Homo sapiens: one gene and its partner. The protein of the gene in region 1 interacts with the protein of each later gene in a pairwise test. Each region holds a gene or a part of one and is shown in the gene's direction. Other genes may lie near its edges.

What was found. Proteins that work in one complex are often made in the same cells at the same time.
Region 2: the proteins of PRPH2 (region 1) and SH3GLB1 interact in binary tests that used the Homo sapiens proteins (3 or more experiments, as listed by UniProt).

What each region holds. Positions count from the first base shown.
Region 1 is NC_000006.12:42,719,798-42,724,074, reverse strand, and holds the start of PRPH2 (peripherin-2), read left to right. Parts: upstream 1-1,477; 5' UTR 1,478-1,740; coding exon 1,741-2,321; intron 2,322-4,277.
Region 2 is NC_000001.11:86,739,076-86,742,575, forward strand, and holds part of SH3GLB1 (endophilin-B1), read left to right. Parts: intron 1-3,132; coding exon 3,133-3,361; intron 3,362-3,500. UniProt on the Homo sapiens protein: May be required for normal outer mitochondrial membrane dynamics. Required for coatomer-mediated retrograde transport in certain cells. May recruit other proteins to membranes with high curvature. May promote membrane fusion.

The sequences.
Region 1 (4,277 bases):
ATGTATGGTGACAGAATTTTGACATACATTCAATTTGATGGATCGAGTTTGGTCTTTTTCTTTTTTTGAGACGTCATTTCACTCTTGTCACCCAGGCTGGAGTGCAATGGCGCAATCTTGGCTCACTGCAACCTCCACTTCCCGGGTTCAATTGATGCTCCTTCCTCAGCCTCACAAGTAACTGGGATTACAGGTGCCTGTCACCATACCCAGACAATTTTTGTATTTTTAGTAGAGACAGGGTTTCACCATGTTGGCCAGGCTGGTCTTGAATGCCTGACCTCAAGTGATCCACCCACCTTGGCCTTCCAAACTGCTGGGATTACAGGTGTGAACCACTGTGCCCGGCCAAGTTTGGTATTTTATTGTTGTTTGGATTTGCATTTTCCTGCTTATTACCCAAGTTGAGATCTTTTCCAGATTATTGGACTTTTCAAGTTTCCTAATTATGAATTGTCTGTTCCTGGTTTTTGCCTATTTTTCCAGTTGATTATTGGTCTTTTGATTGTGAATTTTTGTTTATTGTGAATTTGTGAGACTTAAAACATTTTTGCATATTAATTCTTTTTTTTTTTTTTCCAGACAGAGTCTCACTGTCACCCAGGCTGGAGTGCAATGTGGGGATCTCAGTTCAGTGCAACCTCCACCTCCTGGGCTCAAGCGATCCACCTGCCTTGGCCTCCCAAAGTACTGGGATTACAGGCATAAGCCACCATGCCTGGCCACTGTATATTACTTTTTAATTTTACAAGTTGCAAATGTTTTCTCACGATCTGTCACTTTCTTTCTTTCCTTCCTTCTTCTCTTCTTTTCTTTGTCTTTTTAAAATTTGAGACAGGGCCTCACTCTGTCACCCAGGCTGGAGTGCAGTGGCACGATCATGGCTCAGTGCAGCCTTGAACTCCCCAGGCTCAGGTGATCTTGCCACCTCAGCCTCCAGAGTAGCTGGGAGAACTACAGGTGCATGCCACCATACCCAGCTAATTTTTTTTTTTTTTTTTTTGTGTGTGTGTGTGTGTGTGTGGAGATGGGGTCTTCCTATGTAGCCCAGGCTGGTCTTGAACTCCTGGGCTCAAGTGATCCACCCAACTTGGTCTCCCAAAGTGCTGGGATTATAGGCGTGATCCACTGTGCCTGGCCCTGTCATTTCTTTTCTCAGAGAGGATAACAATTTATTTGTCCTACAGAAAGTTTTAAATGTTGAAGGAGATTGGCCTGGAAATATGCTTTTGGGGAGCAACACGGTCTGAGCCAGACATCCAGATACAGCCCATTCTTCTGGCCAGTCTTGCCCTTTGCTCCTGATTCTCCAAGCTGTACCCAGAGCTTTCTGGTTCAGCATGTACCTGGAGGCTGCTTTTGACCATGTTTTGAGAGTGGCATGGCTTTATCTAATGGGATGAACCTGGCTAAAGAGATTAGCAAAATGTCTTGTGGATCCCACTTTTAATCTGCAGCGTTCAGGCTGCCCCTTCTTGGCTGGGAAGGGCGCTGAAGAAACAACGCCCAGGACCAGGACTATCCCCTGCTCAAGCTGTGATTCCGAGACCCCTGCCACCACTACTGCATTCACGGGGATCCCAGGCTAGTGGGACTCGACATGGGTAGCCCCCAGGGCAGCTCCCTACAGCTTGGGCCATCTGCACTTTTCCCAAGGCCCTAAGTCTCCGCCTCTGGGCTCGTTAAGGTTTGGGGTGGGAGCTGTGCTGTGGGAAGCAACCCGGACTACACTTGGCAAGCATGGCGCTACTGAAAGTCAAGTTTGACCAGAAGAAGCGGGTCAAGTTGGCCCAAGGGCTCTGGCTCATGAACTGGTTCTCCGTGTTGGCTGGCATCATCATCTTCAGCCTAGGACTGTTCCTGAAGATTGAACTCCGAAAGAGGAGCGATGTGATGAATAATTCTGAGAGCCATTTTGTGCCCAACTCATTGATAGGGATGGGGGTGCTATCCTGTGTCTTCAACTCGCTGGCTGGGAAGATCTGCTACGACGCCCTGGACCCAGCCAAGTATGCCAGATGGAAGCCCTGGCTGAAGCCGTACCTGGCTATCTGTGTTCTCTTCAACATCATCCTCTTCCTTGTGGCTCTCTGCTGCTTTCTGCTTCGGGGCTCGCTGGAGAACACCCTGGGCCAAGGGCTCAAGAACGGCATGAAGTACTACCGGGACACAGACACCCCTGGCAGGTGTTTCATGAAGAAGACCATCGACATGCTGCAGATCGAGTTCAAATGCTGCGGCAACAACGGTTTTCGGGACTGGTTTGAGATTCAGTGGATCAGCAATCGCTACCTGGACTTTTCCTCCAAAGAAGTCAAAGAGTGAGTGGCTTCCAGTCCTGGGGTCAGAGCTATGAATATATTGGGGACACTGAGGCTCAGGCCTCTGACCAGCCCCTCTCCCCGCACCCAGTGCCTTTTCCTCTCCATCGGGTGCACAACTTATTGCTGCGTATGTGAGGGTGTATCAGGTGGAACCATATGAAATTGCTAATATTCTACCTCTTTGACCCATAAAAAATGACAACTTCATAGGGTTCAACCTAACATTGGCTAAGGTGGTAGGAAGGTATCAATTTATATAAGCTGTTTGGATAGGAGCCCCTTGGGATGAAGAGCCAGGCAGCAATGTGTGTCCACTTTATACAGAGGGATGGAAGTCATTCATAGATCACAAACACTGAGGTACTATTTGGCTATTTGTCCCATTCATTCAAAGTAGATGGATTCAGTCCCAGAAGTTTAAATTTCCTAGTTAGTTCCCTTGTTTTCCAACCTTTCAACCCTGAGCATCCATTCCCAAGATGTTTGTCTGGATATGTTGGAAAGAGCATAGGAAGGGGAAGTCATGAGATCTAGGGTGAAGTTTTGGTTCTGTTGTTCAAGGTCTTGTGACCTTGGGCAGGTCACTAGTCACTCTGCGCTTTGGCTTGCCCATCTTTTAAATGAGCACTGGAATAGAATAGGTAATTTTGGAAGTCACCTCCTAGCCCTGCCTGGTAGCTGGCATGCAGCAGGTACTCATTAAATGCTTGCTGGTGTTTACTTAGCGAGTCATGATAGTGCAATGTGATAAAGCATTTCTAAAGTATTCTTGGCATATGTAAAAGTAAAATGCTGCGATGGGCTGTGGGAGGTGCTGGTGAGAGAGAGACTCTCGACCACTGTGTCGGAGGGAACAGCCTGTGCACTGGCTCCAGCGGGCTGCTCTTCCCAACACACCCACCAACCTGGGGCTCGAGTGACTTTTCAGGGAAAGGGCAGCCTGCCTTGAGGCAGCCGCTTTCCCTCACCTCTTCTTTCTGTCTGACTCGACCCTACCTGGCTGAGGTTAGGGGTTCAGTTATTCCTAAGGGTGGTTTTTTTTTCTTCCCAGTGAGGCTGGCAAGTCCAAAGGGAACTTGAACTCAGGGCATTGGCACCAGCAGCAGGACATGTTTGAAGCCCAAAACAACATTAATGACGCCCAAATAGCTAGCTTATATCTGCCCTGCAGATGGAAGGGACGTCCAAGTGAAGGTCACTTCTTGGGATTTTATTTTCTTGTGGATGGAGATTACTGCTGCAAATCCCCAGTCAGGAGAGGATTGTAAAGGGCTGTGCCCTTCCCAGGTGACAGGTCTGCAGGGGCAGCACAAGATGCCACGATTTACATAAATCTCCCGAGGAGGGCATGAAGCCAGGGGGACAAGCAGAATTCTGGGGAGTGGGAGAGGCCGATGGTAGAACCAGCCTCTGTGAGCAGAGGCTCACAGAGAAGGGGCTTTTCATCTTTTCCTCTATCATTTCCCTTGATTGTCTCCTGCATAGAGTCAGTTCTTGGACAGATGTATTCAAATCTCTCGGTAACTCCAAATCCCCTTTTGTATCAGAGTGAAGGAATTATCTAGGTCACTCCACTCTCAATGGTCAATGGATCCAAAATTTCAGGCAAATATTTAGCTGAATCAAAACTCCTTCAATGTCCCATACCAACTTGTTGGTGGGAAATTTTCCTAACTCCACTGACTTGGAAAAATTCTTCTATTACACGCACAAAAAATACAGCAGTAATATTAAAAGAAGCCAAAATAGGAAAACAAATTCAAGCTAGCTTCTCACCCATAACTTGATTAATGCCTTTAGTTTTTCTACATTTCAGTTTCAGTCTAGTCTTGTTAACATTTACATAATCATACAGTGTAATGATAGTATAAAGACAATTTAGGGCCGGGTGCGGTAGCTCACACCTGTAATCCCAGCACTTTGGGAGGCCGAGGCGGGCGGATCACCTGAGTT
Region 2 (3,500 bases), on another chromosome or scaffold:
AATATGTTAAGTTTGAGATGTCTCTTAAACATTTAAGTGGAGGTATCCAATTTTAGGATATGCAGGTCTGGACTTGGATTGGGGGCAGGGTGAATTAGATAATTAGAGAGTTGTCAGCATATCAAAGATATTTAAATCTGTGAGACTAGATAAACCCTCAAAGGAGTAAGTATAGAGAAAAGGAGAGGATCAAGGACTGATCCCTGAAGTACTCTAGCATAGAGAGTTGAGGAACGAGGCAAGGAAGATGATAACGAGTGAGGCAGTGAGGTAAAATGGAAACTAAGAGTATGGCCTGGAAGTCAAGTGAACATGTGTGAAAGTGGGAGAGAATGGTCACTGCCTAGGTCAAGTGAGAGGACTACGAATTGACCATTGGATTTAGGAACATTAAAGTCATTGCTAACCTTGACGAGTAGTTTTGGTGAAACAGTAGGCGCAAAGTAATGTTTGTAATATAAGAGACTCGGAGGAGAGGAATTGTGACCGTAAGAATACGTAAATCTTTCAAGGGGTTTTGGTGTAAAGGGGAACAGAGGAATGAGGCAGTAGTCGGAGGAGAAAGTGGGGTCTAGCAATTTTTTGCTTGTTTTTTAAGATAGGAGAAATAAGGGCATGTTTGTAAGCTGATGGGAATGATACACTAGGTGGAGAAAATATGATAATGTGGGAGGGAAAGGGAAGAATTGCTAGAGTGATACCCTAGAGAGGCAAAAAAGGATGAGATTTTGTGCACATATGGAGGAATTAGCATCAGGAGCATAGACAGCTCATTAAAGAGTTTCCTGGCCAGGCGCAGTGGCTCATGCCTGTAATCCCAGCACTTTGGGAGATCAAGGTGGGCAGATCACTTGAGCTCAGGAGTTTGAGATTAGCCTGGTCAATATGGTGAAACGCTGTCTCTACAAAAAAATACAAAAATTAACTGGGTGTGGAGGTGCATGTCTGTAGTCCCAGCTACTCAGGAAGCTGAGGCGAGAGAATTGCTTGCTTAAGCCCAGGAAGCAGAGGTTGCAGTGAGCCAAGATTGAACCACTGCACTACAGCCTGGGCAAAAGGAATGAACTCCTGTATCAAAAAAAAAAAAAGGAGTTCCTGATTGTTCTTTTTTCCTCTCAGTTAAAAGGAAGCAAGCTCATCAACTGAGTGTAATGGTTATGGGGAGAACTGCTGAAATTTTGAGGATGGGCAAGAGGGTATGAAATAGTCATCAGGGGAATGAAAGTGAAAGTGAATGGAGTAGAGAAATGTAGTATCATTGCCAGGTGGCATGTGGACCCACTTGAGGTTCCTAGTCATAAATTGAATGTAAAACAAAGCTTTTCTGTGTTTCTCCTGTTAAAGTAGATGCATGGATACTGAATAGGTAAATAGGTTTTTACCAAATCAGTACAATGAAGTGAGTGGCATAAGAAATGAGAGCATATCTAAGAGTTATTATAATAATTAACTATGGACATGAAGAAGGTGTTGGTAGGATCATAGACCCTGGTAGGCTTGTTGATGTGAGAGCACTTGAAAGAAAAAGGCGATGGTCAAAGAATGGGATAGTAGAAACTATTATTATTGGAAGGGTTGTGGTTACTGGAATTGGTAAGATCTAGATGTGACTGTGGGAATAGGTGGCTGAACTAGGATCAGGTATGAAGTCACTAGAAGAGAAGAGTTCGAGGATCTAAGAGGCTAAAGGGTTGGAAGAATTGTCCATTTGGATATTAAAGTCACCAAGAATTAAGTAAGAGATAATGTCAGTGAGCCAGGTGATAAAATCTTCTAGAAATGAAAGTAAGGGAATGAGGCATCTGTAGGTGATTGCAGTAAGAGATACTGGGTATCTCTTTTTTTAAAGAGTTGGGAATGATACAATAGATGGAGAAAATGTAATATGGGAAGGAAAGATAATATGATAAAATGTAATATGATAAAATATGATAATGTGGGAGGAAAAGATGATGTGCTATAGTTGAATAACATGAAGTTGAAGGATTGGCTAGAATTGTTTAGGGAAAAGAGTCTAAAAACAGTGATGAAGAACATAAGACTCCTCCATTGACCTCTAGGTTCAGTGATAAAAGAGGAGTATGGGAGATAAACGCTAGCACTGGAGGATGAAGGGAAGGTTTAGAGAAGAGGTTAAGGATACAGGGAATTTTGCTGATGACTGAAATGATTTCCAGATGGTATAGTGCTCGTGAAGAGAAAAGAGGACTTTTCTAGTTTAATGAATTTATTAAAACTTTGAATTTTTGTAGATCATTTTTTAGCTTAGAAATGGTTGAATTAGAATGATGTCAGACCAGCTATTTTGTACTGTTTTATATTTGGTATTATTGGGGAAACTAGCCTTAAAATAAACTGAAAATTCTAATTATCTTCAAATTATTTATGAGCACATTAATCACAAAAATCACTAATTTCTAATAGAAAATTTTTCTAAAAAATAGCACAAATGAACTTGTAAAATTTGTCCTATTCTACCATTGAGTCTTCAATTTCATTGAGATAATTAGCAGTCATATTATTTGAATGTCTACCTTCTCACTATGTGTATGTCCTTAAGGGAATAGTATCATTTCATCTTACGTCTTCTGCTTCTCATAGTCATGCTGAACATGTAGATACAAGTAAATAATACTTACATGTAAATGACAATAAATATTTTATTTGAATAGGAAAATGTGATTGGACCAGTTTATGAAAAAAAGGTTTAGTTATTCAAATATTTCTCAAAGAATTAAATTAAGAAAGCCTCATACTTGTAGTATCTAATATTTAAGTAGTTTTTCATCAATATTTTTATTTAGTAATTTATAAAGAAAAGATTAAGAAAACATTCTAATGGAAGTTTTTTGGGGAAAAAAGTATAGCCATTAATTTTAAGTTAATATTATAAGGACAGTTTTGAAACAGACTTTCAAGGATTTATATTTGAATACCACCTGAATTGTCTCTAGTATAATTGGCCCAAGAGGGAAAAGGAAGATAGATATACTTTGTCATTAACGTATTATTAATATCTATAAATCTTTTCCAATGTGAAGGTTGGTAGAAAGTAAACAGCGCCACCGAGTGGTGGTATTAAGGAGCTTTAGTCACTTGGAAATAAATAATTCGCTGCTTTCTTTTCAACAGTTTTCCATCCAATTATCTTAGTAACAACAATCAGACTTCTGTGACACCTGTACCATCAGTTTTACCAAATGCGATTGGTTCTTCTGCCATGGCTTCAACAAGTGGCCTAGTAATCACCTCTCCTTCCAACCTCAGTGACCTTAAGGAGTGTAGTGGCAGCAGAAAGGCCAGGGTTCTCTATGATTATGATGCAGCAAACAGTACTGAATTATCACTTCTGGCAGATGAGGTGAGTATTGTGGGTATGAGAAGGAAAATATATCACGAATTGACATACCTTCTAATATTATAACAAAATGCAAATTCCTCATTAGTTATTTGGAAATGGTTTCATAGATTACAGATAGTTATATTAACATAAAATTTTA